Homo sapiens: one gene and its partners. The protein of the gene in region 1 purifies or fractionates together with the protein of each later gene. This does not show direct contact. Each region holds a gene or a part of one and is shown in the gene's direction. Other genes may lie near its edges.

What was found.
Region 2: the proteins of ZNF444 (region 1) and AHCYL2 purify together in Homo sapiens (affinity purification with mass spectrometry; 3 studies listed by BioGRID and IntAct, with this or other methods). This does not show direct contact.
Region 3: the proteins of ZNF444 (region 1) and ARHGAP18 purify together in Homo sapiens (affinity purification with mass spectrometry; one large-scale study listed by BioGRID and IntAct). This does not show direct contact.
Region 4: the proteins of ZNF444 (region 1) and FBLN1 purify together in Homo sapiens (affinity purification with mass spectrometry; one large-scale study listed by BioGRID and IntAct). This does not show direct contact.
Region 5: the proteins of ZNF444 (region 1) and BCKDHA purify together in Homo sapiens (affinity purification with mass spectrometry; one large-scale study listed by BioGRID and IntAct). This does not show direct contact.
Region 6: the proteins of ZNF444 (region 1) and CMSS1 purify together in Homo sapiens (affinity purification with mass spectrometry; one large-scale study listed by BioGRID and IntAct). This does not show direct contact.
Region 7: the proteins of ZNF444 (region 1) and CCDC6 purify together in Homo sapiens (affinity purification with mass spectrometry; 3 studies listed by BioGRID and IntAct, with this or other methods). This does not show direct contact.

Annotation. Positions count from the first base shown.
Region 1 is NC_000019.10:56,147,479-56,151,651, forward strand, and holds part of ZNF444 (zinc finger protein 444), read left to right. Parts: intron 1-4,173. UniProt on the Homo sapiens protein: Transcriptional regulator. Binds to the 5'-flanking critical region of the SCARF1 promoter.
Region 2 is NC_000007.14:129,423,733-129,427,746, forward strand, and holds part of AHCYL2 (adenosylhomocysteinase 3), read left to right. Parts: intron 1-1,141; coding exon 1,142-1,210; intron 1,211-1,330; coding exon 1,331-1,409; intron 1,410-2,710; coding exon 2,711-2,831; intron 2,832-3,306; coding exon 3,307-3,313; 3' UTR 3,314-4,014. UniProt on the Homo sapiens protein: May regulate the electrogenic sodium/bicarbonate cotransporter SLC4A4 activity and Mg(2+)-sensitivity. On the contrary of its homolog AHCYL1, does not regulate ITPR1 sensitivity to inositol 1,4,5-trisphosphate.
Region 3 is NC_000006.12:129,578,002-129,581,447, reverse strand, and holds part of ARHGAP18 (rho GTPase-activating protein 18), read left to right. Parts: intron 1-1,316; coding exon 1,317-1,378; intron 1,379-2,843; coding exon 2,844-2,935; 3' UTR 2,936-3,446. UniProt on the Homo sapiens protein: Rho GTPase activating protein that suppresses F-actin polymerization by inhibiting Rho. Rho GTPase activating proteins act by converting Rho-type GTPases to an inactive GDP-bound state.
Region 4 is NC_000022.11:45,543,982-45,548,154, forward strand, and holds part of FBLN1 (fibulin-1 isoform D precursor), read left to right. Parts: intron 1-3,103; coding exon 3,104-3,223; intron 3,224-4,173. UniProt on the Homo sapiens protein: Incorporated into fibronectin-containing matrix fibers. May play a role in cell adhesion and migration along protein fibers within the extracellular matrix (ECM).
Region 5 is NC_000019.10:41,411,275-41,415,447, forward strand, and holds part of BCKDHA (2-oxoisovalerate dehydrogenase subunit alpha, mitochondrial isoform 1 precursor), read left to right. Parts: intron 1-2,774; coding exon 2,775-2,883; intron 2,884-4,173. UniProt on the Homo sapiens protein: Together with BCKDHB forms the heterotetrameric E1 subunit of the mitochondrial branched-chain alpha-ketoacid dehydrogenase (BCKD) complex.
Region 6 is NC_000003.12:100,160,181-100,164,353, forward strand, and holds part of CMSS1 (protein CMSS1), read left to right. Parts: intron 1-4; exon of another isoform or gene 5-249; coding exon 250-321; exon of another isoform or gene 322-524; intron 525-2,122; coding exon 2,123-2,252; intron 2,253-4,173.
Region 7 is NC_000010.11:59,791,557-59,795,729, reverse strand, and holds part of CCDC6 (coiled-coil domain-containing protein 6), read left to right. Parts: intron 1-1,132; coding exon 1,133-1,257; intron 1,258-2,618; coding exon 2,619-2,813; 3' UTR 2,814-4,173.

The DNA of each region.
Region 1 (4,173 bases):
TCAGAGAAGGACGTGCTGGAAGCAGCTGGGAAGAAGGCCACGAAGGCTCCAGGGAGCGCAGTTACCAGCTGTCCTCTCCCCGCACCCCGCCCGCACGCAGGGGGTCTTGCCGGCCAGGAATTCTCCTCAGACCGTGGTGTCCTGGGTTCTTACTGGGGACTCCTCCCCGTTCTGTGTGGCTGACCTCAGCCTCCCGCCCCCTGAAAGTCAAGGATACCCCCTGGTCCAAACTCTACCCCAAATTCATCTTGCTTTTGGGCTGGCCTGAGTCCCCCGGGGCAGGCAGACCCTCCTTATCATGCGTGAGGCTCCAAGGGCTCAGAGATGACTTCCCAGGGGCAGAGGGCAAAGCCAGGCCTCTCTGGGCAGGTTTGGTTTCTTGACCACACAGCAGGCAAGGGCCGACTCACGTTCTGGGTGAAGTCTTGGTGCACAGCCACACCCACCCACTCATGTCACCTGGGGCTGACACTTGCCACCGTGATGACCACAGAGGGCCCGAGGAGCTGGAAGTGTTGACTGCCTGGCCCCGTCAGGGAAGTTGCCAGCCTGGCTTAGAGTCCTGTCGGGGGATGTGTTATGTGAGCTGCACATGCCATCTTAAGTGTTCTAGTCAGCACGTTAAAAAAAGGCAAATTTACTTCATGGACCCCAATGTGTTCAAAATACCATCCTTTCAGTAGTGGCACTCTCCCATGGCTGGTGGCTGCTGTGTGGGGCCTGGGTGATGAGCGGTGGGCAGCCACGCAGAGACCTCTGAGAAGAGTGGTCCAGGCCACGAGAGCAGCCAGTGCAAAGGCCCTGAGCCACCTCGAGCGGCACAGGGGCCCTGAGTGAGGGGGTGTTTGCGGCCAGGCCTGAGTCCCCAGTGGCAGGAGGGTGAAGAGTCAGAGCAGTCGCGTGTTCCTCATAAGTGCGTACCGAGTGCCTGCTGGGTGCTGAGATGTAGCAGCAGAGAGGGGGCATCTCGGTGAGGCAAAGCGAGCAAAGCCTTCAGTCCATGGCAGCCGGGCGGCCTTCCTTCCTTCCAGAGGGAGCAGCTCCCGTCAAGGCTGCCAGTGGCCTCATCCGTCTCCCTTCTCATGCGGCCCGACCAGCCCCCAGACACTCCCCCCTCTTATTGTCTGGGATACAGCTCGCCCCTCCTCTGCTCCTGCCTCCTGGCACCTCTGTGCTGGCTCTGGCTTCTCTATCCTCGCCCTCCTTCCGGGTCATTGTTCCCAAAAGTGGGTTGTAACAAATCACAAACGCAGCGGCTTACAAATCACAAACGCAGCGGCTTAGAAATCACACAAGTCTGTTACAGTTCTGGAGGTCAGAAGTCCAAAATGGTTTGGTCTCATGGCCCAAAATCGAGGTGTCTGCAGGGCCACGTCCCTTCTCAAGTCTCCAAAATCAAGGTGTCATCTGCAGAGCCACGTCCCTTCTCAAGGCTCTAGGAGAGAATCCGTTTCCGGCCTTTTCCAGCTCCTAGAGGCTGCCCGCATTCCTCGGCTCATGGCCCTTCCTCCGTCCTCAGAGTGCTGCACTCCGACCTCTGCTTCCATCCCCCATCACTCCTCCGACCTTGACCTCTGCTTCCATCCCCATCACTCCTCCGACCTTGACCTCTGCTTCCATCCCCCATCACTCCTCTGACCTTGACCTCTGCTTCCATCCCCATCACTCCTCCGACCTTGACCTCTGCTTTCATCCCCATCACTCCTCCGACCTTGACCTCTGCTTCCATCCCCCATCACTCCTCTGACCTTGACCTCTGCTTCCATCCCCCATCACTCCTCCGACCTTGACCTCTGCTTTCATCCCCATCACTCCTCCGACCTTGACCTCTGCTTCCATCCCCCATCACTCCTCTGACCTTGACCTCTGCTTCCATCCCCCATCACTCCTCTGACCTTGACCTCTGCTTCCATCCCCCATCACTCCTCTGACCTTGACCTCTGCTTCCATCCCCCATCACTCCTCTGACCTTGACCCACTTAGGTCCTGTGGTCACTTATTTATTTATTTATTTATTTTACTTTAAGTTCTGGGATACATGTGCTGAACGTGCAGGTTTGTTACATGTGCCATGAAGGTTTGCTGCACATACCAACCTGTCATCTAGGTTTTAAGCCCCACATGCCTTAGGTGTTTGTCCTAATGCTCTCCCTCCCCTTCCCCCACCCCCCGACAGGCCCTGGTGTGTGATGTTCTCCTCCCTGTGTCCATGTGTTCTCATTGTTCAACTCCCACTTCTGAGTGAGAACACATGGTGTTTGGTTTTCTGTTCCTGTGTTAGTTTGCCAAGGATGATGGCGTCCAGTTCATCCATGTCCCTGCAAAGGACATGAACTCATTCTTTTTCATTGGTGCATAGTATTCCATGGTGTACTGTGGTCACGTCTTAGGTCACCTGTGATGACATTCGGCCCGTCAGGATAGTTCAGGAGAGTTTCCCCATGTCAGTGCTTAACTCCCTCCCATCCACAGAGTCCTTGTTGCCCTGAGACAGCAGATGACAGGTTCTGGGGATCAGACCGTGTACATCTTTGGGGCCATTATTCTGTCTGCCACAGAGGCGAGGTGAATGCAAGGTGAAGTGGGGGTGGAACAGAACCAACGTGGAATCTGTGAGCCTCGGGGTTTCGCCCTTTCCAGTTTCCATGACTCCTCAGAACAGGACCTGGCACATGGGTGCTGTCTAGGTAGATTTCAGCCACTGTTACCACTCTGAGCTCATGCCATCTGTTTTGTTGGCATTAAAATGTTCTTTTAGGAAAAGATGGTAAAAGTAGGTGGTGGTTATTGTTGCTTTTAATGTATATATCTTGCAAAATAAAAAAAAATCTTCCATTCGGGGATGCAGTGAGAGTTCTGTTGGTTCAGTGAATCTAAAAGTCGGGAAATCACCAGGCTCCAGGCCGTCGGGACTCTCCTGCGTTCTCTGCTTGCTCCGAGGCGAACCTCTCACTGTGGCTCTGGGATGTCTTTAGCATCTCTCTTGTATCTGTTACTCTCTCTTTTTAATAAGGGCAGATCTCAGGTTCAGAGCCTTCTCCTATCAGTGTCCACACAGACGGGAATAACACTGCCGTGAGTGATGGAATTTCCCATGACCTCTCTCTCTGGCACATGATACTGGCTTTCCATTTCCAGCAATGATACAACATGGTCTTAAGTCAGTGTTATTTTAGTTTTAGGTAAAAGTAAAGAAGAGTAATAAGAGCCTGGGCGATAGCCATTGTAGCTGACGGTGGTGTATAGACAGCTGACATCTGGGGGCGCTGCTGTGGATTGGGGTTTCTTGGCATCTGGTCTGTGGGAGCTGACGGTGACGCATAGACAGCTGACATCTGGGGGCGCTGCTGTGGATTGGGGTTTCTTGGCATCTGGTCTGTGGGAGCTGACGGTGGCGCATAGACAGCTGACATCTGGGGGCGCTGCTGTGGATTGGGGTTTCTTGGCATCTGGTCTGTGGGAGCTGACGGTGGCGTATAGACAGCTGACATCTGGGGGCGCTGCTGTGGATTGGGGTTTCTTGGCATCTGGTCTGTGGGAGCTGACGGTGGCACATAGACAGCTGACATCTGGGGGCGCTGCTGTGGATTGGGGTTTCTTGGCATCTGGTCTGTGGGAGCTGACGGTGGCGCATAGACAGCTGACATCTGGGGGCGCTGCTGTGGATTGGGGTTTCTTGGCATCTGGTCTGTGGGAGCTGACGGTGACGCATAGACAGCTGACATCTGGGGGCGCTGCTGTGGATTGGGGTTTCTTGGCATCTGGTCTGTGGGAGCTGACGGTGGCGCATAGACAGCTGACATCTGGAGGCGCTGCTGTGGATTGGGGTTTCTTGGCATCTGGTCTGTGGGAGCTGACGGTGGCGCATAGACAGCTGACATCTGGGGGCGCTGCTGTGGATTGGGGTTTCTTGGCATCTGGTCTGTGGGAGCTGACGGTGGCGCATAGACAGCTGACATCTGGGGGCGCTGCTGTGGATTGGGGTTTCTTGGCATCTGGTCTGTGGGAGCTGACGGTGGCGTATAGACAGCTGACATCTGGGGGCGCTGCTGTGGATTGGGGTTTCTTGGCATCTGGTCTGTGGGAGCTGACGGTGGCGTATAGACAGCTGACATCTGGGGGCGCTGCTGTGGATTGGGGTTTCTTGGCATCTGGTCTGTGGGAGCTGACGGT
Region 2 (4,014 bases), on another chromosome or scaffold:
CATTGTCTTTATCTAGGGGCCCATAAGTTAGGAGTTTTTAGTGTCCTTACTGTTTTCTTCACATTTTCCTCACTTTATCTCATCTTCTCAGATACTTCAGGGCATTTGTAAAGGGACTGAACTATTTCTTCACAAGGAAGGAGTATATATGAGGAGGAGATGGGCAGATTGCCAAATATGCATTAATAGCTTTGATGTCAGTCTGCTGACTGATGACTTGTTTCTAGCTGCCCTAGGAGGTCCCACCTGGTAATTTTGGTGACAAAAGCAAGTACCATGGGTGTTTTTGGCTAGATGGTTGAGCAAAAAGGTGGTCAGGCTTCATAGGAAACAAAATAGGAAAGGGTGGCATTGGGGGCAATTTCTAGTTCTTCTACTGTCTGAATCACCAACTCAAAATACAAGGCTGACAATGCTGTCTTTGAATTCAGGAGAAGCAAACTGAAGGAGAAGCACAAAAATCATCACAGCTATGGTGAAACCCTGTCTCTACAAAAAAAAAAAAAAAAATACAAAAGTTAGCCGGGCATGGTGGCGCACACCTGTGATCCCAGTTACTCTGGAGGCTGAGGCAGGAGAATCACTTGAACCCAGGGGGCAGAGGTTACAGTGAGTCAAGATCATGCCATGGAACTCCAGCCTGGGCAACAGAGGGAGACTCCATCTAATCAATCAATCAATCAATCAATCAATCAATCATCACAGCTTCCTAAGTCCAAATATACCTCCCCTCACAACCTGGAGAGATTGTCCCTGGATTTGACTGATCATTGTTTATTTCAAGACAGTCTTTAAAAGAAATGCCGATCCTCAGAAGGAGGATATTTTGCTATAGAGAGTGGAAAATTCAAGAGAAGTACACTGATATTTGGCATAAGCCTCAGTGTCATATGACCATCTGTATTCCTTTTTAAATAATTCCAGAAATCTTTTAGCTATTAGTTTCATCAGATTTTCCAGAATTTTAGTGGTTTCATTTAAATGTCAGTCAGTTAGTTCTTATATATTGAATAGCTGCTTTTTTTCCAGCAGTGTTAGTCAGGAAGTGTTTGGAAAATGGTGGTCATGCTTCTCTTCCCTCACTTCTCAAAGGCCAGCGACTTTGTCCTAATCCATTTGTGTCTTCACCTTTGATCACTAGGGCCGCCTGCTGAACCTTAGCTGCTCCACAGTGCCTACATTTGTGCTCTCAATCACTGCTACTACTCAGGTAAGGCTTCCAGAGTGGGATAGCAGTAGTCTGGAGAAGGTCCTCAGACCCACCAGGTTTCACTTGCTTGGGTAGATTGCCATGAATGGCACATCAGCATCCATCTCTCTGCTTTTCTAGGCTCTTGCCTTGATAGAGCTTTACAATGCTCCTGAGGGTCGCTATAAGCAGGATGTCTACCTGTTGCCCAAGAAGATGGGTAAGTATTTACTCTTCCATCTCCATCCTTACCAAAGTAGTTCAGAGTCTGAGGTTAAAGGAAGTTTGGGGGCATTAACTTACTTAAGGATGGGGGAAAAAAGGTACCTTCATCTTGTAAAGTAGGAATTAGGATTCCTAGGTGCCATTCCCATTTATTTATCCCATTTTCTACATGTGTTGCCCTAGCGAAGTTGTGATATTATGCTGTGATTTATTTTACCTGCCTGTGAATTTTAAGGATTTTTTTTTTCTTAAAGTATCTTTATGTGGGAATCTCAAAGGAGAAAAAAAAAATCTTCCCTTAAAAGAGAAGAATCATCTCCTACCTTGTGACATCTGACTTACTCCAATTCTAGGCTGCCAAATAGCCCCTACCAAACTTTTCTCAGACGACACAAGACTTTCTTACTACACCTTCCAACACCAATCCCAGTGCTTCAGGCCAAAGGAGAGATGTGGAATAGGAGCTATTTAGTTATGTGGGTGTTTTGTATAAGAGAAACATTAACCTGTCTTAAATTTTTAAAGAGCCTGCCTCAAGCACCTGAACTGATACAGTGTGTTTATAAACTCCTCAGGCAAAGATCAGGTAATAAATAAGCTTCTGGTTTTGTTTTGCCTTAGCACTAGGTATATAACAACTGTTAAAAGTTGATACATTTTCCCTTTAGTAGACACTTTAGAAGGATATAAAAGCAACAGCACAGTCCATATTCTGACAGAATGTATAATGAAGTTGGGAGACCAAACAAATACATAGGAAATGACATAAGATTATGAATAAGTACTATGTAGTCAGATAATAGAATGTGAACAGAAACCCATAAGAATTAAGAGTACTAAAAGCAAAGCAAACAGTTCATTTATCCCATTTAGTATCCTTCTTAGTTTTTCCATTCAAGTTTCCCCAGGCATTAGTTGTTTTAAATGACCCAAAGTATGGAGTCCAAGGCAAAACTCAAGTTGGAGCTTCCCATTATTTAGTTCCCACATTATCCTATTCCTTCTTTTAAATCTTAATGCCTGTTGTTTCTTTCATCTCTCCTGCACTTTTCTGGAAGGCAGGGTTCAAAGCTGAGTTAGTAAGGATGAATTATTAAGGCTTTGGAAAGCACTGGGCTTGAAGCTGAAGGCAGCTATTCCTTAGAATTGAGGACCAGTGAGCGAAGGTTGAACATTTTTCATTCAGCTCCAGGAATTAGAAGGTGTCTTTGAACTTTTTAAGGCCTAGCTTGGGGACAATAGCCATCAGATAAAAGGCATGAATGCTTATACCAGGGCTTCTGTGGTCTGTTCCAGATGAGTATGTGGCCAGCCTACACCTGCCTACCTTTGATGCCCACTTGACAGAGCTGACAGATGAACAGGCCAAGTATCTGGGACTCAACAAGAATGGGCCCTTCAAGCCTAATTACTACAGGTGCCTTGGGCTCCCCAGAAATCAGGGACACCTGGGCAGTGATGAGCTTCCTGCACTGGAATTGGTCTTTGCATCCCCAACCACATATGCTTACATGAACTCAGAAAAATGAACCCACTTCCCCTCACTGCCACCTTCAAAAGACTCTTCAAGGCCTTAAATAGTATTCCCCTTCCTGAATTTGCCTTTTGGAGATAGAGAGGTGGAGTTTGGGTAAGTGGCTATTTGCCTCATTAAATAAAGTTCCCCTTCCTCAATTCCTTTCCCCATTTCATCTTGTTGCTATGATTTTTATCTCTTTATGGAGAAATATTGGCCTTTTTCAATGATGTGAAAAGGAAACACAGTTATTTCCTGTCACTGTACACTCCAGAAAAGTCTCTGCCTCCCTGTTACACCTTTAGGCAGGCTCTTCATGTCCCAGCATCCCCATTAGCTGATAACATCACAGTCTCATCTTTCTTTTTCCCTCCAGGTATTAAGTTCCTGTAACTCAAACCAGAATTTTTAAGGAATAGAACTCCAAGCCTTTTCTCCACTACTATACAAGAAAGAATTCAGCAAGCTGCTTCTCCAATCAAAGCTGCCTGCCGTGCTCACCCTGTGTGTTAGGTTATTTATTTATTAAAATCAAGAATCCTGTGCCTGTAGTGTTGGCCCAGAGTGTGGTTACTGCCCTGAGGGCCATGAAAGCCACAGAGGATGGGCTGAGGAAGGAAAGAAATGGGGTTACTGCTCCCAGTGCATCATTTGCATCATTCCCCATTGACTGAATCCTCAGCAGTGGCCGTTTTTCCTCTTGTCCAGGCTCACGAGTTAGTCCAGGGATTCCATACTCCCTATTCCCTGGAGTTTTCTGGAATAAATTTTCAGCACCTGCTTTTCTCAGCTTGGCCCTTCCCCGGGTGAGGCCGTTTGGAATTAACATGGCCAGTGTTTCACACAAGATTGGGTTCCCAATCTTGACCATCACTATCACTGCCTTCTTTATATAAAGGCTAATAAGGAAGGAGTGTTATTTATGGCTTTGCCAAGCTACATCAAGAACTCAGCTGTGCTGTGCCTACCAGGGGTCTCCTTTCTTACCCAGGACTCCTTTCTTCTCCTTGAATATTTATGTCCATTTTAACACTTCCTGGTTGCAAGAGGGATGTGCCTCCATTATTTCCTCCACAGTTTTGGT
Region 3 (3,446 bases), on another chromosome or scaffold:
GATTGTGTTATGTACTAGATTAAAAACAAAAATAATAATGATTAAATTATTTAATTTAAAAGATAAACCTACACTGTAGTTGGAAACAAAGTGGATCAGATGCAGTGCAGCAGGTGGAACATAGCGTGAGGGCCCAGAGAGCCCTGACTGTCCAGTGTGCCAGGGACACAGGGCAGGGAGAGAAAGGAGGAGAACCAGATGAGCCATTCCATGGGTGGTGAGGAGCGCTGCTGCTGTACCATGCTCTTCCTAATGGCTTGAATACAAGTCAGACCTGATTTTCTCTTCTCAGTTCCAGAGAGTGTGTCTTCAGGGCCTTATCTTAGTGGTCCACTAACCTTGCCATGCTTCAGAATCCACTATAGAGCATTTGAAAAGCAGTTTCTTGGGCTTTATCCTAGACCAGTTAAATCTGAGTTTCTAGAGCTCTCCATCTGAATTTTTAGCAGGTTTCTCAGGTAATTCTTTTACAGAAAGATAATGACATAATTTGCTTCCACTCTGAGGGTCTGTGCTGCCCTCATTTGCACAACTGACAGAAGAGAATGGCTTATTCTTTTTTTTTTCTTTTTGGAGACAGGATCTCATTCTGTCACCCAGGCTGGAGTGCAGTGGCACAATCTCAGCTCACTGCAACATCCATCTCCTGGGCTCAAGCAGTCCTCCCACCTCAGCCTCCCGAGTAGCTAGGATCACAGACACTCACCACCATGCACGGCTAAATTTTTTGTATTTTGGGTAGAAATGGGGTTTTGCCATGTTGCCCAGACTGGGCTCAAGCGATCTACCTGCTTTGGCCTCCCAAAGTGCTGGGATTACAGGCATGAGCCTTCACACCCAGTCAGAAGCATGTCTTATTCTTCACATGCATCTTGCACACTACTGGAGTTGTCAGCACAGCAAACCCATGATAAATACTTATTGAATAAGAGTAATGTGAAAACTAAAGTGGAAACATTTAATAGTTTTATGAGGACCATTTTGGCTTGTATACAAAGTGGATAATCATATTAATAATTTGATTGGCAGCGGAAATGTTACATTAACTTTTCTTTTGAATTTTACAAATTTAGATACTGGTTTACTACTTTGCCTTCAGATGTATAATTCCATTTGTTTATTTTAATTTACAGGTGTGATACTTTTATTACCTATTGGGTACATTTAACAGATGGGAAAATACAAACGTGTAGATAATTACAGTGTGTCTAAGTTATGAATTTTCCATACCAGCCAGAATTCCCCAAGCACGTTAAAGTGATTTACTTGCAAGCTGTTTGATGATACAACTAATCGGTTTGTTTTGTCCCTCATAGTGGGGTTGCCCAGACTCTCAAGAAAGGAGAAGTTTTTTTGTATGAAATTGGAGGAAATATTGGTAAGCACTTTTTTTTCTCTTTACATTTTATATGCTGTTTTGATATTGCCAGTGGTTATTATTTATGTCTTTGGAGGAAGAACAGGAAATTAGAAGTAAAATATACCATGCTTTAGATAAGTTGCTGAATATTGTGGATTTCTTTAATGGTTTGACCTTTCTCTTCAGGCTCTGTTTGAGCGCCTGTACAAATGCCCATCTATGTTCAATTTCAGCAAAGGCAAGTTCCCTATACAGTAAGAATAACTCCTGGAATGGTTAATGATGCAAGTTTTTCAAAACTCTCTTCTTTGTAATATACTCATGTCACATAGTAAAGGAAGTAGTTGAGCTTATATAAGGCTAAGATAACACTTTATTATAGTACAGTATTAGATATTTTTAGTAAAAGCAGATTTACTTTTGCCATAGTTGATTTCCTGCTAAATTTTATACACATGCACACACACTCAAATTCACATTAGTAATTTAAAAAATGGAATGAATTAACTTTGACCATGTTTTATATTTTACCCTTTTGTAATTATCAGTGAGTCTTAACCATCTCTTTTTAAAAATTTAAAATAATCTTTTTTTCTTTTTTGACTCTTGGAAATGGTAAGGGTAAAATTATTAAGAAATAAATGAAATCATGTTAAGTTCAAAATAGTAATTAAAAATAATTTTGCAATAAATTTTGTAGGGTGTTTTTGTGGGAATTAAAAATGTTAGTAAATATTAAAAGTTAAATATAGGAATGTGAAGGTTTATTCTTAAATAGGCCATGACACTAGAAACCTGGAATTGTTAACTCTATTAGTAAAGGTTATTTAAATATTAATAGATTTGATTTCTTATTTTCCTTTTAGATCTTGGGAATTAAGTGTAGTTTCTTAGGTGGATTCAAAACCATTGCCCCTCCTAATAAGATGATTAAGCTTTTAAGGAACTATTTAAAAGCCTATCATACAAAGTATTTTCAGCTTCCTAAATTAATTTGAAACCTATTCATTTGGAGAAAGACTACCAAATTTATTTTTCCAATTGTTGGCCAATTCTTACAATATTTTGAGAAACAGGAAAGAATGAGAAGTTTTTTTTTTATTATTATTATTTGTTTTGTTTTGGAGACAGTGTCTGCCTCTGTCACCCAGGCTGAAGTGCAGTGGCGCAATCTCAGCTCACTGCAACCTCCACCTCCTGAGCTCAAGCCATCCTCCCACCTCAGCCCCCTGAGTAGCTGGGACTACAGGTGCAAGCCACCATGCCTAGCTAATTTTTGTATTTTTTGTAGAGATGGGGTTTCATTATGTTGCCCAGGCTGGCCTCAAACTCCTGATCTCAACCAATCTGCCCACCTCGGCCTCCCAAAGTAGAATAAGTATTTTGAAGTCCAAGACTTAAGAGTTAAATAATTAAGCTTAAGTTTAAAATTGCATACCAATCTACCTGCTGTATTAAACTGACACAACATCTATTTTAACAGGGGAACGCTGCCTTGATGATGACACTTACATGAAGGATTTATATCAGCTTAACCCAAATGCTGAGTGGGTTATAAAGTCAAAGCCATTGTAGAAGACTTAACAAGCTGCAGATAACCATGTGGACTTCTGTCATAATTCTTGCTGAGTCAAGAGTGTAAATAAAAGAAATGGCAGGACTCATATTATTCAGTTGTACCCAAGTATTTAAAAATGACTCTCTTAAGCCTTAAAAAGTCATAGATTTGTGCTGCTGCCAGAATTATATTAATTATTATTAATGTTATTATTAGAAAAAAAATTTCTGGAGTGAGAGTAAAGAGGCTTAATTAGTTTGTGGGCAGTTTTCATATGCTCTGTGAAATGTGTCCAGATGTGACATAGTTTTTTTTTTTAATATGTGGAAATGTCTTCTCTTCCCATTCTTTTCTCCTAAAATCATATATACTGTAATATATGCTCTCTCACCTCTATTACCTCCTCACATCTACCCTTTCCCAGTTAGGTTTGCTTTTTGACCAAAAAGATAACAAATACCAGGTATGGCAAGTTGTGAAGACAGCACATTAAAACATACCTAATTTCACAGTATTCCTGTCACGACA
Region 4 (4,173 bases), on another chromosome or scaffold:
TGATCTCAAGTCACCCAAACAAAAGGAGGGAGGCTTTGTAAATGACGAGCTGTGAGAGGAAGTACTGAGGCCTTTAGGGCGTGGGTCACTGTGCACCTGCCTCTAACTTCTTTTTTTTTTTTTGAGACGGAGTCTCGCTCTGTCACCCAGGCTGGAGTGCAATGCTACGATCTCGGCTCACTGCAACCTCCGCCTCCCGGGTTCAAGCGATTCCCCTGCCTCAGCCTCCCGAATAGCTGGGATTACAGGTGCACACCACCATGCCCAGCTAATTTTTGTATTTTTAGTAGAGACAGGGTTTCCCCATGTTGGCCAGGCTGGTCTTGAACTCCTGACCTCAGATGATCCGCCCACCTCGGCCTCCCAAAGTGCTGGCATTACAGGCGTGAGCCACCGCGCCCGGCCTGCCTCTAACTTCGTGTTGGAGTTAGGCTTTCCCCACCCGCAGAGACAGGGAGAAGCACCCTGGCCTTCCGGATGACGACATTCCCCAGGCATGTCCCCAGCCCTTGAGAAAGACACTCCTTGGTTGCACATCTCAAAGGGACAGAGAAACCGTTTACATTTGCAAGTTTTTCTAAAGTAGATGCTTCTAAGGAACATGGAGGTCAGCGCCTGTAGTCAGGTTTGGGCTGGAACCAAGAGAAAATTCTTTTGGCAGCATTGATCTTTCTCAGACAGGCATGTCAAGGGGGCTGGGTCTACATCCTGGATACCTGGTCTTGGGCCAATGGCAGCCACGCTGAAGTTGGGTCAGGTCTCTTGGTATGTGGGGGTTGGACAGAGTTGTTCCTGCCAACAGTCTTGTGGTTCTCAGATAACACCAACCTCCTGGGCTGATGGGAAGGTCACATGAACTGCATGTCAGCCCAGGGCCTGGCACATACTAGGTGCTTGGCAGATGTCGTGTCTTGTATACGGATTAGGTTCTGAGCTGAGCAGACACTGAGAGCTTTGGATGGCCCTCCACAATCGTCCACATTGCCGATGACACCCTGTTTGGTGCCGTGCACTGGCTCACAGGACGGCTTCTGCAGCCTGACTCAAACATGGCAGGTCCTAACATTTTGCCATGAGAATTTTCCTTCCTGATGAGATGGTCGCAGGGGTTGGATATGCCACAGTGAGCTGTGGTGTGCATGATTCTCAAATCGGAGGACGGACGGTGTGAGGGGTCCTGGGCTTAGTTCACAAGAACGTGTATGGACAAGGAACAAGATTCACGAGTTGAGTCTCTCAGGCTTGTGTTCAAACCTGACTTCTGCCATTTCCATGGCCTTGAAGAAGTAACTCAGTCTTTCCTGGGCCATGGTGTCCTCATCTGTAAAACGGGCATAGTAGGACCAACCCCATAGGGGGTTGTGAGGATGAAACGAGATTAAGCATGTGAAGAGCTTATCACAGGGCCAAGCACAGGATGAAGAGCTGGCGGTGTGGAGGCTGCTGGCTTTATTATTATTTAGTAGAAGTAGTGGGATTCCTGGCTTGTGCTTCCTCTAGTCATTCATAAATTGCTGAAAAGTCGGCATTCATATCCACATTAGTGGACAATATTGTGGATATAGAACCAGAGCCTGGCCAACCTTGCTATGTGACCTTACTAACCATTTGTTAGGGTCCTGCCCCGGGTGTGTAGCAAGAACTCGGTCCTGCACTGGGGAGTGTCTCTAGCGGGGGATGAGAGACCACACTGGACAGGTGGAGGCCAGGCCTGGTGTGTGGGGGCCACAGAGATGAAACACGGGGTGGAAGGCTATTGGACGTTCTGTGACAGCCACATAGTATAGATTTAAGGCTTTTCCAGCCACAATCTCTGTTGCAACCGCTGAACTCTGCTGTGGTAGCAGAGAAGTGGCCAGAGGACCATGGTAAAAGAATGAGTGTGGCAGGGCACAGTGGCTCACACCTGTAATCCCAGCACTTTGGGAGGCTGAGGCAGGTGGATTACTTGAGGTCAGGAGTTCGAGACCAGTATGGCCAACATCGTGAAACCCTGTGTCTACTAAAAATACAAAAATTAGCCGGGCATGGTGGTGCACACCTGTAATCCCCCAGCTACTCAGGAGGCTGAGGCAGGAGAACTGCTTGAATTCATGTCCACATTTAGTGGACAATAGCCTCCCGGAGGTGGAGATTGCAGTGAGCTGAGATTGAGCTACTTGTACTCCAGCCTGGGCGACAGACAAAGACTTTGTCTCAAAAAAAAAAAGAGTGAATGTGGCTGTATTCTTTATTTTATTGTTATTATTATTTTGAGACGGAGTCTCGCTCTGTCGCCCAGGCTGGAGTGCAGTGGTGTGATCTTGGCTCACTGCAACCTCTGCCTCCTTGTTCAAGCAATTCTCCTGCTTCAGCCTCCCGAGAAGTTGTGACTACAGGTGCGTGCCACCATGCCTGGCTAATTCTTGTATTTTTAGTAGAGATGGGTTTCATCATGCTGGCCAGGCTGGTCTCGAACCCCTGACCTCGTGATCCGCCCACCTCGGCCTCCCGAAGTGCTGGAATTACAGGCATGAGCCACCATGCCTTGCCGGGCTGTGTTCTAATAAAACTTTATTTATAAAAACAAGTGTTGGGACAAATTTGGCCCATAGACTATGATTTGCTGACCTCTGCTTTAGGTAAAGGGGACAGTTGAGCAGTAGTTCAGAGTTGCTGAGTGGCCCAGTGAGTTCTGTGCATTGGAGTATGAGGAGTACTGGCGTATGGGCTGGGTGGCCGAGGACTTCCTTGTGTGCCGTCATCTGTTTAGGATGCCATCTTGGAGGTGAAGTGGAGAGCACAGGATCAGATTTCCATTTGAGAACTAGAATGGACTCTGGCAGCCAGGTCGGGGCAGACTTCCAGGGGCCAAGGCTGGAGGCGATCGCTGCCATCCTGGCAGGAGAAGTTGTGGTCGAAGCAGGCAGGAGCAGGGATGGAGGGTCCGGAGCCACCAGCGATGACGCCTCTCCCTCGGCCACACCCCCCGGGACCTCTGTCTCTCCGAGTGTGTTAACCTGAGGGAGGTGGAGAGGAGATTTTCTGTTCACTGACCCTGAGGGCTACTGTGGAGGCAGGGACGTATGATGCTCTGAGCGGTGACCCTCGTTTTGTATTTCAGACATCAATGAGTGCAGCAGCAGCCCCTGTAGCCAGGAGTGTGCCAACGTCTACGGCTCCTACCAGTGTTACTGCCGGCGAGGCTACCAGCTCAGCGATGTGGATGGAGTCACCTGTGAAGGTGCGGACGCCCCTGCCTGCTGAGGGGGAAAGCACCCCCTGGTCTTGCCATGACACAGCAGCACGGCCTCTGACTTTCAAAATCCACAGGGAAGAGCCTGCTGGGATTTCTTCACCTGACAAACCTTCCATGTCCACCCTTGGAGGCAAGCGGGTGGTTTGCTGTTTTCCCTCCAACTGAGGTTTTTTTTTTTTTTTTTTTTTTTTTTTGAGACACGGTCTTGCTCTGTTGCCCAGGCTGGAGTGATATGGTGCAATCACTGCTCACTGCAGCCTCAGCTTCCCAGGCTCAAGTGATCCTCCCACCTCAGCCTCCCAAGTAGTTGGGACCATAGGTGTATACCACCATGCCTGGCTAATTTTTTATTTTTAAAAAATTAGAGACGGGGCCTTGCTGTGTTGCCCAGGCTGGTCTCGAACTCCGTGGCTCAAGTGATCCTCTTGCTTCAGCCTCCCAAATTGCTGGGATTACAGGCATGAGCCACCGTGCCTGGCCCCCAACTGAAATTCTAATATACTTTTCCCATCCTTAAGCGTGAGGGTGGGAAGGCAGCAAACCACTCCTGACTTGTTCTTTAATAAATGTGCACGGCGGTAATTACAACATGCACTGGGACCTTGGGCCGCATATCTCAGGTCTTGGTGGTGGTGCATGGCTGAGAGGTAAGGAGGGGGCTCAGGGACCACCTATATCCCTGACTCAGAGCTCTAACTCTTCATCTGTAACATGATGATTAACTTCAGCCTCACCAGATCATTGGAGGATTAAACTAGATGACAGCAATTACAGGCAATTAAGGGCAATTACGATGATTACCATTTTCATGTAAGGTGTGTGTGTATTTTGTTTGCTTGTTTGTTTTTGAGACAGAGACAGCTCTGTCACCCAGGTTGGAGGGCAGTGGTACAAACACGGCTCACTGCAGCCTCCATCTCCTGGGATCTAGCAAT
Region 5 (4,173 bases), about 15 Mb from region 1:
TGACAGCCCTTCCTCTTGGAAATGCACAGTCCTGAGAAACAGGGTGGGTCCCCAGTGCTTCCTGGAGTGCTCCAGGGGACCGCCCTAGGCCCATGTGAAATGGGCTGTGATCCCCTGATAAATCCTAGTATCAGGGACAAGGATCCAGTCAAGCCAGTGTCAACAAAGAGGGAAGTTATTGACTCCAATGACCATACATCCAGAGGGTCCTGTTTTGGGGCACAGCTAGATCCAGGGGGTCTTCCAGGCAGGAAGTAGAGGGAAGGCGGAAGGCCAGACATGGCACATCCCAGCTATCCCACACCCCCACCTTTATAGAGCTTTCTGGGTAGTCCCACCTAGTGACATCTGCATACATTTCCTGGGCCACTCCTAGCTGCAGGGGAGACTGAGAAATGTATTAATAATACTTTAGTCCCGGCAGTTGCTGCCTGCGGGAGATTGAGACCTCTGTTAACAGAGGAGGGGAATAGTATACTGGGAAGGCAACCAGGAGCCTCTGCCAGTAGCCCCGAGTCCTGATCCTCAGGGGGCTGGTTGCAGGCTCTTACCCACGCTAACCTGGACAGTCCTGCCAGGCCCTCAGTACTCAGCACCGCCCACTCACTTGGCACTGGAATGTGCATTAACTTTTAATTGGCTCCCCACTTAGAAGAAAGCACACATTCATCAGTTTCCCCCACAGCAACGGGAAAGCCAGGCCTGGGAACACATGGAGGAGGGCACCGCCGAGCCGCGAGGAGCTCTGGCCCCGGGGTGTCCCTCAGGGTGCTGGCCAGGCTGCCTTTGTTCCGCTTTACACATGGCCCTGTGTGATCTCATGTCCATCCGTATGCCAGGGCTGCCCAGAGCCCCAGCCAGACTGCTTGTCAGAGCCCTGCTTGGCTTCTCGCCCTGGATGTCCCACAGCAAACTAATCCTGTCTGAACTTGACCTCGACATCTTCCTCCCAGGCGTGCTCCTTTGCCTCACCTAGTCCGTTTCTCAGTGAAGAGCACCACCATCCACCTGCTTGCCCACACCAGAAACCTCATCTCATCCCTGTCTCCTCCCTCCCCCTTGCTATCCCTTTCTCCCCTCTCATTCCCTCTGTCTGTAGATATTTCTTTTTTTTTTTTTTTTTTACTTTTGAGATGGAGTTTTGCTCTTGTTGCCCAGGCTGGAGTGCAATGGCACGATCTTGGCTCACCGCCTCCCTGGTTCAAGCGATTCTCCTGCCTCAGCCTCCCGAGTAGCTGGGATTACAGGCATGCGCCACCACACCTGGCTAATTTTGTATTTTTAGTAGAGATGGGGTTTCTCCATGTTGGTCAGTCTGGTCTCGAACTCCCTACCTCAGGTGATCTGCCTGCCTTGGCCTCCCAAAATGGTAGGATTATAGGTGTGAGCCACTGCACCCAGCTGTAGCTACTTCTTTTCTTTTATGTTATTTTTATTTATTTATTTAGAGACGGAGTCCACCTCTGTCGCCCAGGCTGGAGTGCAGTGGCGCAATCTCGGCTCACTGCAACCTCCGCCTCCCAGGTTCAAGTGATTCTCCTGCCTTAGCCCCCCAAGTAGCTGGGATTACAGGCGCCCACCACCACACTCGGCTAATTTTTGTATTTTTAGTAGAGATGGGGTTTCACCACATTGGCCAGGCTAGTCTGGAACTCCTGACCTCAAGTGATCCGCCTGCCTTGGCCTCCCAAAGTACCGGGATTACAGGTGTGAGCCACCGTGCCTAGCCTGTCTGTAGATACATCTTTAGGAAGTGCTCAGCTGCTCAGCAGCACACTCTGAGACCCAGCCCCATCCTTTCTCTGCTTCACTGTTGTTGGTGAGTTGACCTTCGTGCTCTGCTTGTGGCCTCGTGTTCACAGCATGGCTGCTGCATGTCCAAGCTTCATGGCTGTCTGCAAGGCAGGAAGAAGTAGGGAGTGGGTAGGGCTGGCACCAGCAGCAGTGGTCTCTTCTATCCAGAAAGCAAAAGCAGACTTCCACCAAAATATCTGGCTAAAACTGTGTCCCATGGCCACCTCTGGCTGCAAGGGAGGCCAGGGACCTGAGTGCGTGTCTTTTTGAGGCTCAGGTTAGGGGATTTGGGAGAAGGGAACTGGGCACTGGTGTGGCCAGCTGACAGGGTCTGCTGCCCCCTAGCACAGCCGACTCAGCTTCCTCAGACACATCCACCTGCTCCTCTCCCGCCTCCCTCTGCTACCAAGCTGGGCCTCTGCCCCCTCTCTCCTGGCTTGCTGCAATCAGCCTTGATGACTCCATCCATTTACCTCACTGCAGCCTGAGAGCAATTCTAAAACACAGGTCTGACCACATTGCTCCCTTGAGAAGACTGTCGGCAGGTTACCACTATTCTCAGAGTAAAATCAATGTATCGTTCCCTTTGTTATCTGGGTGCCATCTCCTCTCCCTCCTCATCTTTCCCCACCCCTACCACTGTATGTCCCAGCCCTTCTGGCCTCATGGTCTATCATTCCCTCTGCCTGGAACCCTCCACCCACCCCATCTTTGCGCACTGGTCCTCACCGATGCCCTTCCGTGGTGGAACAGGTGCTTCCTTTGGGCTTCTATCACAGCAACTCGATCCCTCTGGCAGTTCTAAGCAGTCTGGCAGCGTCTTCTTAAAGGCAGGAACCCCAGCATGGCCTGGCCCAGGACTGGCCTTCAGGAGGACTGTGAATTCATGGAGGTGTTGGAAGCTGGGCAGGATTTGGATGGCTCTCTGTCATTGCCCAGCATAACCAATTGTGGGACCCCGGTCCCCTCTACACCCCCAGGGCCGGATCTCCTTCTACATGACCAACTATGGTGAGGAGGGCACGCACGTGGGGAGTGCCGCCGCCCTGGACAACACGGACCTGGTGTTTGGCCAGTACCGGGAGGCAGGTACGTCTGTCCGTGGTTTGGCCCTGTGGTCCCCATTGAAGTGTACACTTTAGTTTTTCTGAGTGTTCTTCCAGGAGCAGCATAGTGCCAGGAAGGTCTAAGGAGCTGGAAGAAGAGCTTTCCAAGCAAGAAAGAGACAAGCCAGGGTTAGGACTCTGGAGGGGGCAGTCTTCCCACTCTGAAGGCCAGAAAGTGTAGTGGCTCAGGGTCTGTGCTCTTAACCCTTTGTTACCAGTTGTCAGGTTTTGGGCAAGTCACTTCCCTTCTCTGAGCCTCAGTTTTCTAATCTCCAGAAGAGGGATTATGACGGTACCTGCATCCAAGGGTCGCTGGGAGGATGCAGTGAAGTCAACGTTCGCTGTGGGTGTGGCCTGTGCAGGAGACCCTGTCTGCCTGGTGCAGTGATCCCCTGGCCCCTCCTCAGGTGCTGTATCCTTCGGGGAGCAGGAGCAGGTGGAAGAACCTTGACAGACCTGAGTGCGGTGCAAGATTAGAGGGGCCCGGCAAGCCCAGATGAGTGAAAGGAAGGAAGGGTCAAAGACCAGGAATGAAGAAAATCATTGAGCAGGAATGAGTGCCTGGGAGCGAAGGAGTGAGCCCAGGGAGCAGTGAGTGGGGTCTTCCAGGGAGCTTGTTGGTGTGGGGCCCTGCATGGGGACTACCCTCAGAGTGTCAGCGAGCACTGATAGGGCCAGGAAGGCATATCTTAACCCTTTGTCTTAGATGCTTGGGGCAAGTTGCTTAACTGCCCTGTGCCTCTGTTTCCTCATTCGTAAGGGGGATGGTAGCCCTTCCCAAGACAGCTGTTGAGGGCAGTCTTGGGGCAGTTGGCAAAGTGCCCTCAGCACAGAGTAAGCGCTCAGGGCCAGGGGTTGGTGTCATGATCGGGGACTCGCCCTGGGACAGCCCTTCAGCAGGGCCAGACCACGTGGCTGTCCAGAGCCCCCATGGACCAGCATGGCTTGCAGCCTGCTCCTGGACTGTCTACTGCTCACAGCTGGACCAGGCCCTTGGCCCCACATGCTCTAGGAGGGCAAACGCCCTGTGGTGTTTGTCTAAGGTCTAGTGTCATCCGTGCGGAAAAAGATTTCCAGACACCAGGCAGCAAGCTGGGCCCCCGCCAGCTGTGCTGAGCACTGCACCTGTTTTTGCTGAAGGGTTCTCTTGTGAGGGCACCAGGCAGGACCGAGCAAGCCTCATGGGAATCATGGGAGCCGCTGAGCTCTCCACATGGGAGAGCTGGCCGCCTCTGCAAGAATGACTGTCCAGCACTGAGGGTCAGCAGAAGTG
Region 6 (4,173 bases), on another chromosome or scaffold:
TCACAATTTGATCTTGCTCAAAGATTCTCCAGTCTTAAGTCATCTGCGCTTTCTGACTTTCTCAAATTCTCTCAGCCCAACCGCTGCATAGTAACCTACGGTAGATCTTCCAGCATCTCTCTTTCTGTAGAATATTACCAAGATACTCTGAAGAATACATGCATGGCAGAAAGTACTTTGGGGTTCATGCCACTAATTGACACTTTATCATGAAAAGATTAAAATGTTCTCATTTGTATTTCTTAATAGCCTAAAGAATGTTTTTTGATACAACCAAAGGAAAGAAAAGAGAATACCACCAAGACCAGGAAAAGAAGAAAGGTAATATTAATAATTTCTTAAATTTGTATGGCCCCACATGGTTTCCATCACATTTTTATATATCATACTTTCTTGAGGCAACTATTGTAATCCCCACCTAAGAGATGCAGACATTGTAAGATTCTTTGAGGTTTGGTGACTTTCCTAAGGTCACTACTAATAAGTGTTTCTGTTGGAGCTAAGAATAAATTCTTCTGACTCCTATTTCAGTCCTGTGGAGTGCCAAATATCTTTGTTACCCACCCTATGTTTTCAGTGTGGTCAGATGTCAGACATAGATTTCTAATTCTAGAAGGAGTCCAGAGCTATCCTCCCCCGGCCCTTCTGGCTCTGTCCATGAAAAGAAATATACCAACCTCCTTTTTCTATTCATTCCGGATTTTAAGACCTTATACCTTAAAGTATGAATAAAAAGAAAATAATAAGCAGATGAAGGTAGTATGAGGCACTTCTGACTAATTTGGAACCATAAATTAGGTCAAAAAAGCTCCCCTACCTTGCATTTTGATATTTGCTGGTGAGCACAGGAAAGACTCTTTCTCATATACAAACTTTTTTATGGCTCAGCCTTGGAGAAAGTATGGTTAGCTATGACCTTCTCCCACAGTTGTGAAAACAGCAGTGTAATTCTCTCCCTGCCAAGAGGGGTCTGCTGCTGAAGTCAGCCGAGGAAATACGATTGGGATTAGAGGAAAGAAGATGGACTCAAACCTATTACTTAACAGCAAGCTTTTAGAAAACTGAGAGTGTGTGTGCATATGTTTTCTTTTCTTACAAATGGCCAAATAGGAAAATGGGAGATGCCAAATTGGCTGAGGTTTGGCAAGTCCTTAAATAAGTGACTTTAACTTCGCTTTGATAATTTGTACACTAATGGCCTTCTGGAGTGTTAAGTTCTTGGTGGCTCAAGGTCAAAACTCTAGCTAGATAGTTTAGTCTTGACTGAGGTCACACTAAAATGTGCCCACTGATGACATATTTTTAAAAGTTAATTTCTTTGACAGAGGCTTGACCATTCTTGGCAAGTGTCTAGAAATGAGGATATTGTAGAAGGAGGGGGAAAATCTGGGGTCAGGGGTGGGGAATGCTCCTTCTGGATCTTTGGTGGAACATTAGAAGGAAGTGAGAAGGGAAGCTTATGATGGAAATAAATGAATGATTGTGGGTTTCTACTACTGCAGCATTCAATACATGCTACACAAATGAGTCCAAATCAAAATCGATGTTGGAAAGTATTTCCTGTAATATTTTTTCTACTTTGCATAGGGCCACTTTAATACCATCAGTTATCCAAGACCTGAGAATCGAGGGTGTTAAGTCCCCTTCTCAGTAGGCCCCTATGCTCAGATTCCTACTGCGGGTTTTACACTAATGACAGAAATCCAAACTAAGACTCAGCACCTCAAAAACCAGATTGGGCAAGAAATTCTCAAAATTCTAATCCTACAGGAATATAAATCATCTAGGGCTAAAAGAGAGCTCTCCATAGCAATGAGATTTCTTTACTTTTAACAGAAAATAATACCCCAGTATGGAGATGCCTGCAAAAATTTAGTTATCTTGGAAGTCATAGACCAAGAGTTACAGGGAGCTTTCTAGATCATTTTTTCATTTTTCAAAGCAATAGTTATGTCCAAGAAGTATTTAGTGAATTTTCTCAAATGTATTTATTAAAACCCACATTCACACTTGGCTAACACCAAAAGCTATGTGCCGTTTAAATGCCAGAGGAACTAACCTATTCCAACCAAATGCCATTTTAAAATATGTCGTCCCATTTTTCTTCTTTCTCATATCTTAGAAGAAAATTACTGATGTTCTTGCAAAATCAGAACCAAAACCAGGGTTACCTGAAGACCTACAGAAGCTGATGAAGGACTATTATAGCAGCAGACGCTTGGTGATTGAATTAGAAGAACTGAACCTGCCAGGTATAGCCAAGCTTCAATTTTCCTAAAGACAAGGAGCAAAACATAAGTATCTGTTATGGTTAGGTGTCTCAGGCAGTCAATTAACACATTTTCCAGCGGGCATGGTGGCTCATGCCTATAATCCCAGCACTTTGGGAGACTGAGGCTAGAGGATCGCTTGAGCCCAGGTGTTTGAAACCAGCCTGGGCGATACAGTGAGACCTCATCGCTATTAAAAATAAGAATAATAATAATAATTGTTTAAAGAGACATACTTTCAGGCCAGGCACAGTGGCTCACGCCTATAATCCCAGCACTCTGGGAGGCTGAGACGGGTGGATCACTTGAGGTCAAGAGTTCAAGACCAGACTGGCCAACATAGTGAAACCCCATCTCTACTAAAAAATACAAAAATTAGCTGGGTGTGGTAGCACACGCCTGTAATCCCACCTACTTGGGAGGCTGAGGCAGAAGAATCACTTGAATCTGGGAGGCCGAGGTTACAGTGAGCCAAGATGACGCCATTGCACTCCAGCCTGGGGGACAGAGCGAGACTCCATCTCAAAGAAAAAAAAGAAACATAATACTTCTTTTCCTCAATCTAATAGTTTTAACTGATAGATTATATCAAATAGTTTTAACTGATAGATTATATCCTTACTGGATGCTAAACAGTATTTGTCAAATCTAATATTAAGATTTGTGATTGTATTTTTTTATTCAAAAGGTTAATTGTTGGGTGTGCATTTTTAACAAACTATTCAATGAGTAGGAATTCATCATGAGGATAGAAGTTGAAGTACACATTTAAAAGTATGGATGTGAAACACTGATTTACTCAACTATTATAGACAAGAACTTTAGCCTTAATAAGCAATTTAGTTTTGTTGTTGCTCTTATTATGGATTTCTAGTCATGGTTTTTAGAATAGTATTTTAGGTTGCAGGCCAGACTCTTTCAAGCAAACTGTCAAAAGGTAGGAACAAAATTCTGTATGTTTTGCGAGGCTGACACTTTGCCTCAAGGGATTCTTAGGCCTACTAGAATTTTAGATCCTCTGCCTTAGTGTATTTATAATTAAGCTAAAAGATATTACAAAATTTAAACAGCTAATTTTTTAAAAATATTTATTTATTTATTTTAGAGACAGTGTCTTGTTGTGTCGCCCAGGCTGGAGTGCAGTGGCACCATCGTAGTTCACTGCAGCCTCGAACTCCTGGGCTTAAGTGGATCCTCTCATCTCAGCCTCCCGAGTAGCTGGGAATATAGCCACGTGCCACCATACCCAGCTTAAACAACTAATTTTAATTAATTTCAAAATTATAATGCATCCTTTAACTCTTTTAGGCAGGGATGGGAGGAAATAGATGTTGTCATAAAATCAAACCATAAAAGTTTGGGTACAACTGCTTCAGATGAGCTATTTATAGACTACTAGGCATATCTAATATTGCTTTTGGAAAAAGTAGAGGGTGGCTTGATTTCCGTTTTCCATTACAACTTTATGCTTTCTAGAAGCTTGAGAAGCTGAAAAACAATCTGTTCCCTGAATTTTTATAATTCTTTTGTGATATCCTTTTTCAAAAACACACATTGGGTTTGGAGACATGAGTGCCCTGTCTGTTTTCCAAGGAGATTACCCTTTAGGGAATTGAAGGAGTGCATTTGCACATGAGCAGGATCTGGACTTTTAGACTTACTAAGCCCAGACAGTTCCAATAGCAGTTATAATCCACTCTTCTCAGCACACCACGGCCTCTGCTGTGAAAACTATGTCCTGACTGCACTATCACAGGAACTATTCTAACAAAACCACTTTTGAAGCTTTAACTGAAGTTTAATTTTTACTGTGACTCAATGGTCAGTTTTCCATTCTAGTTCTTTGTTAGAGCAACTTGAACTTAGGAAGGATTTGTGAGCAGTGGGACCACTGCTGTTCTGT
Region 7 (4,173 bases), on another chromosome or scaffold:
AAACACCACATGTTCTGACTCATAGGTGGGAATTGAACAATGAGAACACATGGACACAGGAAGGGGAATAACATCACACTCTAGGGACTGTTGTGGGGTGGGGGGAGGGGAGAGGCATAACATTAGGAGATATACCTAATGCTAAATAACGAGTTAATGGGTGCAGCACACCAGCATGGCACATGTATACATATGTAACTAACCTGCACATTGTGCACATGTACCCTAAAACTTAAAGTATAATAATAATAATAATAAAAATGAATAAGAAAAAAAATAATAATGGCCAACTTAACAGTTATGAGGTGATATCTCACTGTGGTTTTGATTTGCATTTCCCTGATGGTTAGTGGTGATAATCGTCTTTTCATATATCTATTAGCACATTTGTGTATCTTTTTTAGAGAAATGTGTATTCAAGTTCTCTGTGCATTTTTTCATTGGACTATTTGAGTGTGTTTGTTTGCTTTGAGTCATAGGAGTTACTTATGTATTTCGCATATTCACCCCATACCAGGTATATGGTTTGCAAATATCTCCTCCCATTCTATAGGTTGCCTTTTCAGTCTGTTGACTGAAAGTTTCCTTAGCGCAGACACTTTTTAGTTGAATGTAGTCCCACGTATTTGTTTTTGCTTTTTTTTTTTGTTGCCTATGTCATATCCAAGAAATCATTGCTAAGATCAATGTCAGGGAGCTTTTCCCCTATTTTCCTTCTAAGAGTTTTATAGTTTAAGGTCTTATAGTTAAGTCTTTAATCCATTTTGAGTTGACTTTTGTATATAGTGTAAGAGATAAGGTCCAGTGTCACTCCTCTGCATGTGAATATCCAGTTTTCCCAACACCATCTGTTGAAGAGACTGTTCTCTTTCCCCGTTGTGTATTCTTGGTGCCCTTTTTGAAGATCAGTTGACCATATACGTGTGAGTTTATTTCTGGGCTCTCTGTTCTATCCTAGGAATTAACATTTATTTCCCTTGTTATCCACACCATTTAGTGAGCCCATCATTCTTTTCATCTGTTTGTATTTTTGTGGGTGATAGAGAACTACTGCGATTTAAAACCTCCTAGATAGTTGAAGACACCAGATAGTTGAGCTTAAAATGATACTTAATTTGTTGTTATATTTTAGGTCTATCATATGCAAGTCACACGGTTGGTTTCACGCCACCAACTTCACTGACTAGAGCTGGAATGTCTTATTACAATTCCCCGGGTCTTCACGTGCAGCACATGGGAACATCCCATGGTATCACAGTAAGTGTCCGTGGGGTAGGAAGCAGCACTTTACTCCTGAAAGTGGTACCGACTGGTGTTCTGGAGAACAGGATCGGTGCCCTTAGACATTTGCCCTTCTTCCTGCCTCCTCCATCCGTTCACCTTGAAACTGTAGAGACTTAAACAGTTTGATACCAAATTCTGGTATTGAAACTAAAATCCTTCCCAGGAGACAAAACTTTAACTTCACTTCCTATGAAAAATTACCCTTTGTGAAATATAATTTGAACTCTGGCCAGTGCTTTGATTGAACTCTGGCCAGCTCCTTGCATTATTGTTGGTTGCCATAATGTCTAAAGATATTTATTGTCTGCACCTTCACAGTTCACTGACCTTCAGTATTCTTCCTGAAGTTAGCCTTGTTTGTAATGTTACTCAGAATTTTCTCTCCTCGAATTACAAGGAAGCTTAAGTGCATCTGGTTCCAACTCTACCCAAGGGAGTTTTTTCTTTAGAGTCGGCAATATAGTTGACTAATAGAGCCATTAGAAATGTAGCTAGTAGAGTGAGAGTATTATTAAGGGTATTTCCAATAACAGAAATACCAATATTTCAAAGAATAAATTATAATATTTTAAAGAAGAACCCTATTCTAAGAATGCACTTAAGGTATTTCTGAAGCTGTTTGGCCAGTTTGATGGACTTTATGTAAAAGTAGGAACTTTTTTTTTTTTTTTCCTCACTCTGTCATCCAGGCTGGAGTTCAGCAGCATGATGTCTGCTCACTGCAACATCCGCCTCCGGAGCTCAAGGGATTCTCTTGCCTCAGCCTCCCGAGTAGCTGGTATTACAGGCACACGGCACCACACCTGGCTGCTTTTTGTATTTTTAATAGAGACGGGGTTTTGCCCTGTTGGCCAGGCTGGTCTCGAACTCCTGGCCTCAGGTTATCCACCCACCTCTACCTCCTAAAGTGCTAGGATTACAGGTGTGAGCCACTGCACCCGGCCTCAAACATAGAAACATTTCTGTTGAGCTGTATCTTTCAGGATGTGGACAACTTATTGGAGATAAGCAATAGAGGGAATTGGTGACACACACGGAAAGAAAGATTTAAGGGGATATTTTACAGCTCTCGTTGAAGGACCCAAGTCCAGCAGTTTGTTCAACACAAGTTGTGCAGTAATTTTATGTAGCTTTTTCATAGGTGGAAGTGTAAACACTGCCTTATTTAAATTTTATTACTAGTTCAGAAACCAGTAGGGATGAAGAAAGAAATCCCTGGTTTCTTGTCTTTGTTGGTTAGTGTTTGATTAGCCCCAGTGCCAAGTCAGGCTGTGTTAGGTAGAATGAGATCCACCTGTACCTAGACTGACTTGCTGTTCCTGTCCCCTCTGCAGAGGCCTTCACCACGGAGAAGCAACAGTCCTGACAAATTCAAACGGCCCACGCCGCCTCCATCTCCCAACACACAGACCCCAGTCCAGCCACCTCCGCCTCCACCTCCGCCACCCATGCAGCCCACGGTCCCCTCAGCAGCCACCTCGCAGCCTACTCCTTCGCAACATTCGGCGCACCCCTCCTCCCAGCCTTAATGCATGAGCTTAGTCTGAATTTCAAGTTGGGACTCATCCAATGGAGCCGTCTACTCAACGCCAAAGGCTTCCTTCTCTGGCATATTTGGATATGACTTATTTGCACTGAGGTTATCTAGGCTTCACTATCCATTGTGTTGTAAATGTTTGTCAGAAATGCAGCCAGTGTTGTGGGTCTACAACACTAACCAGACGACTTTTTCCATCAGTGTTTTACTTGAATCTTCATGTACGTCCATTCCCTGGCTGGAACCTTCGCTGTTTGGTATTTGGTATTTCAGCAGCAGTGTGCAATTTTTGCTTGGCCCAGAGCTTCATTCTCCTGGCTTTTAGGTTTGTAAAAGAAAAAGGGATATCTTTTTTATATTTTTTTCCATGAATCTGCAGAAAATTACTGAGCTGTTGTTACCCTCCTCTCATTATAATAGTGTTTACCAAACATACCAATAATTCAGCACTACAATTCAGACCTTTGAAAATCTGGCTTTCAGTGTAGAACAGAAAGTTAGATGAATCAGTGCCCAAGACATATTTTCTGTTTAACAGAACTTTCTACAGATACATTTTTTACAGGTTATTTTCATTGTGTTATTGACATCCATGTCTCTCGTAAAACAGATGGCCCAAAGTAATGAATCATGTGGCTGTACCTTCTCCACATAAATGGGATGGATAATTATCGTATATTAAGATGTGATTCTCTTTTTTATCCTTAATGTTAATCTACTTAACCTGGCCCCCTCTAACATGAGTCGATAAATGTTGTCCTACTCACCGGTGGTTTCAATGGCTAATTAGAATGTGTTATTTGATTTCTGCTGCAGAAGGCAGTGTGATTGTAACAAAAACAATGCGGCTTCCCCCTTTCGTACTTCATTTGTGTTCTCTTAAAATAGAGTTTGAACAAATATTTTAAAGGTGCAAAATACCATTAGAAAATACTATTTGAAATGGACATTATCGCATTATCTTGGCATAATGGCCAGAAAATATTGTATTGCTTGGCAGAAAAGAAAATAAGGTCTAAAGGAAAGTAGCACATTAGCATTGATGGCTGTTCATTTCACCCAGTATAAGCAAGTGCAGTGTACAAAGAAGTATATTCTGAATACATTATTTCCATTCATTTAGCACAAATAAATCATTTGGTTTCACTTTGCAGTGGAACACTGAGTCACTCTTTTCTTAACACGTGCAACATCTTAATTTTTGTTTTTCAGCAGTTGCTGTTTTGTACTTTGGTAGTAAAGTGATTTTTACCACCTGTGTTTGCATATTTATATATGCTGTGGATGAAAATAACTTACTAGAGAATGTATATTTTATGACAAGAATGTGTATCTGTTGGATATAATCAGAG